Regions from separate parts of the Homo sapiens genome. Here region 1 is linked to region 2. Evidence: fine-mapped expression QTL. A gene starts in region 2. The other region holds a variant in brackets. All regions are shown on one strand. Distances are from middle to middle. Region 1 has its middle 17 kb from the start of LINC02091. Region 2 holds the start of DOC2B (double C2 domain beta).

The links.
Region 1: its variant is fine-mapped to the expression of DOC2B in whole blood (TOPMed, PIP above 0.99).

Annotation. Positions count from the first base shown.
Region 1 is chr17:203,196-206,100 of GRCh38, forward strand. No RefSeq gene overlaps it. Among named protein-coding and RNA genes, the nearest start is that of LINC02091, 17 kb to the left of the region's middle. The variant A/G (reference allele first, on the strand shown) is at 1,105.
Region 2 is chr17:180,424-183,328 of GRCh38, forward strand. DOC2B (double C2 domain beta) reads right to left here and starts at 1,227. Exons shown (of 9, transcript NM_003585.5): 1 at 684-1,227. The coding sequence starts at 1,056. RefSeq lists enhancers at 1-149, 1,611-2,112.

The DNA.
Region 1 (2,905 bases), 23 kb after region 2:
CACGTTATCACTCGTTTGTGGTGATGCTGGTGTGAACACACCTATTACACTGCCAGTCACATACGAGTGGACAGTAATGCCCTGGGCCCTCACACTCACCACACACTGACTCTCCCACAGCGACTCCAGTCCCGCAAGCTCCATTCACGGGAAGTGCTCTATACACCTGTGTCATTTTAAAACATCTTTTATACCGTATTTTTACTGTACCCTTTCTATGATTAGCTACACACATAATTCCACGGTGTCGCAGTTGCTACATGCTGCACAGGTTTGTAGCCCAGGAGCCCAGGCTCTCCCACATAGCCTAGGTGTGCTGTAGGTTCTGCCACTTAGATTTACGTCCGTGCTCTCTATGATGTCTGCACAATGATGAAATTGCCTGACAACACATCTCTTGGAAGTATCCCTGTCGTATCCTGGTTGTTAGGTGACACATGCCTGTACTTCTGTGTGAATGAGTTTGAGTAAGATCTCATCTGCACACACATTAAGGGCTGGCTAGCCTTATTAGCATAAGGAATGTGGCAGTGGGTTTTCTTTCATTTATTTACTGTTTTTGAATAGGGTCTTGTTTTGTTACCCAGGCTGAGTGCAGTGGCGAGATCATGGCTCACTACAGCCTCCAACTTCTGTGCTCAAGCAATCCTCCTGCCTCAGCCTCCCAAGTAGCTGGGACTACAGCTATAGTGATTTTGATAGGGGGGGAATTTGTTGGGGGTCACTGAGGCGGGCTGGGGCACACAGACCAGGGCTCCCCACGAGGGCCTCTGAGGCACACAGACCAGGGCTCCACACAAGGGCCCTCTGAGGTACGCAGACCAGGCTGAGGCACAGAGACCAGGGCTCAAGAGCTGCTCTGCCCAGGATTCCTGTGGCTGCTGTGAACTGAGTGCTCCTGGCCGAGGACCCACAGCTTCTGGGAAGTGTAGGTTGGGGCTCCTGATCTGCTGGCCCCTCCCTAGGGATGCAGAGCACACAGGCCCTGGGCCTGGAGTGTTTCCATCCATCCACACATCCTTCTTCCCATCAGGACACTGGTCCATCCTCTGTTCATCTGTCCATCCTCTCAGATGTCCTTCAGCACATTGGTCCATGCAGAAT[A/G]TCTATGCACCTGTCTCTCCATCCATCTGTCCAATGCTCCATCAGTCTGTCCATCATCCATCCTCCCATCTGTCCTCCACCCACCCACCCCCACCATCCCCCACCCAATCATCATCCATCCAACTACCCCCTATGCCCCCACTCACCCTTCCCCCACCCAGCCATCCGTTAACCCCTCCCCCACCCATCCTTCCCCCACCCATTCCCCACTCAACTATCGCCCTACCCATCCCCCACTCCTCCACCCACTCACCCATCCATCTCCTCACCCATCCCTCACTCATCCAGACCTCCATCCATCTCCTCACTCACCTGCCATCCACCCATCCCCCAACCATCCTCACCCCTCCACCACCCACTGACCCATCCCCTACCCCTCCATCTACCCATGCATCCATGCATCCATTGATCCAGCAATATTTCTTGACAGCTAACTAGGGACCCAAAGGTGAATAAGCCTTGACTTCTGCCTTCAGGAGCCGGGCTCTAGGGAACCCAGCCTTGCCATGCCACGTCTGGAAGCAGAGCCTGGGAAGAAGGTGCAGCGACTGATCTGGGCAGGCCCCTGCTGTGGGGGCAGGGATGACAGGGCCCAGCTTTTGGTTCCCTTTTCCCCATGAAAGAGCCTGGGCAAAGGTGGAGGCGATGGCAGTCGGGAAGGAGGGAGCAGGGAGGGAGAAGCTTCATTTGTCAGCTGCTCAGCAGGTACAGTCAGACTTAAAATGTCTCCAAAGAGCAGCCGCTGAGAGGCAGGGGGTGAGCACGCTGAATTATTTTCTGGTAATTGGCACTGAAGAAGCTGCAGACATCCTGAGGTCTGCATCAAAGGCTCAGAGCTTCGGCCGTCTTGGTGGAGACTGGGGGCACCTCGTCGGGGGCTCCTAAGGATCTCTGAGCTCCTGCCTCCTCCTCCTCCTGCCTGCCTGCTCTCCTCGGTACTGTGGGGTGAGGAGAGGCACACTCTGCTTTGCTTTCTGCACAAGACAGCCCCGGGGTGGGGCCGGGCGCTGCGGGTCAGAGCCCTGACCGTTTGCAGAGGAAAGGAAAGGGACAGGAAACTGGAGCATCAAGGCCCTGCTTTGCAGGGGACACCAGGACTTAGCCATGGCAGGGGCTCTGCCAATGCTCTTCACACATGGCCTGGCGAGGTCCTTCTCCTCACATACTCCGGGCAATGCCAGTGCCAGGTTTTCCTTTGGTCTCATCCCTCCCCTGTGCAGAAGAGCATTTGCTGGCACTTGGATGAGCAATTTAAAGGCACTGGTCCTCCACATATATTTGAGACAGGGTCTTGCTCTGTCAATCAGGCTGGAGTGCAGTGGCACAGTCACAGCTCAGTGCAGCCTCAAACTCTTGGGCTCAAGTGATCCTCCCTTCTCAGCCTCCTGTGTAGCTGGTACTACAGGCATGCACCACCACGTCTGGCTATTTTTTTTTTTTTTTAATTTTTGTGGAGATGGCATCTCTCCATATTGCCCAGGCTGGTCTCGAACTCCTGGGCTCAGGTGATACTCCTGCCTTGGCCTCCCAAAGTCCTGGGATTACAGGCATGAGCCATTGCACCTGGCCTCCTACGTATTCTGTAAACAGGTGAACCTTTCTGTGTTTGTACATACTAGTGTATGCACACGTGTGTGTGCGTCTGTGTGCCGTCCATCTCCCCTGGCGAGGGCCCCTTCTGCCTAGTACCTCCAACAGCTGGACCCTCCAGCTGGTCACCTTATGTAGGAGGCTTCTCTCCCCCATGGGCGGAGTGCAGGGCAGGGTGGCCTGGGGTGGAGGCTGCAGGCAGGCCAGTTCC
Region 2 (2,905 bases):
GGGCCGCGGGCGTAACAGGTGGGCGAAGGTGCGCGGCCCTGGCGAGGGCTGCGGCGGGGTCCATGGACACCGGAGGAGGAAACGCCAAGGTTTTTCCAAAGGACAAGCGGCCCCGCGGTCCTCCTGGTCCTCTGCTCGCGCGCCAGCAAAGCAGCTGCGCTCTGCGGGCCGCCGGGACCACGCGGGAGGCCGGGCCGCTCCCAGCCTCGGGCCCCTCCCCAGCTCGCCCCAGCCCCGACCCTCGGCCGCGAGGCCCTCCCGGAGCGGCTGGCGAGCGGGGAGCGACCGCGCGGCCGGCAGCAACTGGTGTCTCCCCGGGACGCAGCTCCGCCCTTCCCGGGAACAAAAGCAGCCGCCCGCGCCGGAGCTCCGGGAGGGCGGGCTGGCAGGGAGGGGGCGCGGCGCCGGCTCCGAGGAACCCGGCCCCGGAAATGGGACACCCCCAGGGGGTGCCCCCGAACTTCCCTCCTGTCCGGCCTGGGTCGGGGGAGGGCTCGAGGCCGGTGGGCAGGGCGCGGAGAGCGCACCGAGTGCGCCAGGGGCCCGCAAGCCCGCGGCGGGGTTGTGAACCGAGGCAGAGCGCGAGCGCGCGAGGGGGACCGGCGGAGGGAAGCCGCGAGGCCGTGGGGGGGCCGAGCCCGAGCCAGGGGAGGGGGCGCGAAGTCGGCGCGTGGGAAACTTACTGCAGTCGTCCGACTCGTAGCCGTCGGCGTCCGGCTCGTCCTCCGGCGGCTTGGCTGGCGGCCGCGCGGGGCTGGGACCCGGGCTGGGGCCCGGGCTGGAGCCGTAGGCTCCGAAGAGCTGGTCCACATCCTCGTCGTCCTCGCGGGCGCCGTCGGAGGGGCTGCGGCGGCCGGCACCGGCCACAGCCGGGCGCGCGGGGGCGTCCGGGGGTGCAGCGGCTCGGGGCCCGGCGTCCGGGGGCAGGCCCCGCGGGAAGCGGGGGAAGTAGTCGGAGATCTGCTTGATGGGACGGATGGGGCCGGGGCACACGTCGATGGCCATATGCTCCTGGATGCTGATGGTCGCCTTCTCCCCGCGCCGCCGGAGGGTCATGCAGGCAGCGCCGCCCCGCCCCGGGCGCGGCCCGGCCCGGCGCGACCCCGGCCCGGGGGCGGCTCAGCAGGCCCGGCGGGGCGCGGCGGGGGCTGCGGGCATCGCCGGCCGCGCCCCCGGACGGCCCTGACTTGGCCGCTGCCCGCTCCGCTGCGGACGGCGCGAGCGAGTGCCAGAGGCCGGCAGGCAGGGGGCGGGCCCAGCCCGCGTCACCCGGCAGCAACCAAGCAGGGTGAGTGTGCGGGCTGCGCGGGCGGCGCGGAGCGGAGGGAGCCGCGCGGCGCCACACTCACTCGCACTCGCACTCACACCGGCGTGCACGCCGGCCCGGGACCCCGCGCGCGCACACTCGCGGCCAGGCAGGGCCGCCGGGCGCCTTCCGCTCATGCACGCCCGCGGCACAAGCTGGGAGTCAACCCGGCAGGGACCCGCAGGACGCGCACCCACACGTTCCCGCGCGTGCCAGCCCACGCTGGGCTCCGCTCGCTCTCTCGGGACACACGCAGGTGTGCAAGTGCACACATGCGTGTGCAGAGACACGTGGTGGAAGCATCCGCTCGCTCACACCGTAGGTCACACACGCAAACGTCTGCATGCGCACATGGTTGTTTTAGGAAGCTGTGACACAGTACACCCCCAATGCACAGGCGCGCACACCTGATGGAGCACACACACAGGTGATCAAGGGCACCCAGGGCACAGGCTTCCCTACCCCCAAGCACCCCTAACAAGATGCACAAACATGAGCCCATAGAAGTGATCAGGGGACCCTGGGCACAACTCCTTCTCTCCTCCCCCTCTAGCAGGACGTGGAGTCACACTCCTAGCATGTAGGGACAGGTTGCCTACACACGGGCAGGACATGTACACGCTCAACTGCACAAGGACACCGGGGCTCAGTCTGTGCACACATATTCTCAGGTCACATACAACACAGCACTCTAACCTCGGGTCAGTCCCTCACTTGGTCAGTGAGTACAGTCTGAAGGACCCCCCGGGGCAGGGTGGCTGAGAACCTGCACAGGGCCTGGTCAGGAGGGAGTGAGGGCAGGGCCTGGGCGGTGAGTGATGCAATAAGGCTGGGCGGCACGCTCCCCCCACCCCCACTCCTACTCTAGGCCTCCCACACGGTCAGATCACTAAACAAATCCCAGAGGGCCCAGCCCTGGCTGTCCGGCTTTCCGGGACCAGAGCTCTGTTGGGAACTGCTGCTGCTTGGACAGGTGTGTTCCCGGAAAGCCCTGGGCATGGATGGAATCCTGTTTACCCTCTGGTTTCCACTGATGTGTAAGACACTTAGCTTCTTAGTGGGTGCCTTTGGTGCATCTGAATGAGGGGCTCCAAGCCTCTCTTGTTCCCCCACCATAACCCCTGCAGAGTGATGGGGAGCAGAGGAAAGAGAGGCAAAGCCTTGGCCTGTGGCTTCCAGCTGCACAGTTCTGGCAGGCTATTTGACCTCTTTGAGCCTCGGTTTCCTCATCTATGAAGTGAGGCTATTTCCAACTGCACAGCCTTGTGGCAAGGCCCCATCCAGCACAGACAGGTAAGAGGTGCTCAGCTGGCTTTCCCTTCTCCCTTCCTTTGGAAAGACAAGACTCATGGTGAGAAGTGATGAGAAATTCATGTTTTGTGGTGAGTTCTGAACTGGGTGGTGGCGGGCACTACCGGCCTTTGAAAACACTGGAGAAACACATGGCATATGTTGTACTGCGCCAAGAACATTCACAGCTGTCATCTCATTGATTCCTTAAACCACCCCACGATGTAGGCAGGGCCTGCTGTTCCCATTTCACAGGGGAGGAAATTAGCGCTCAGGCACAAGGATGTGTCCAGGGTGACTGCTGGCTGG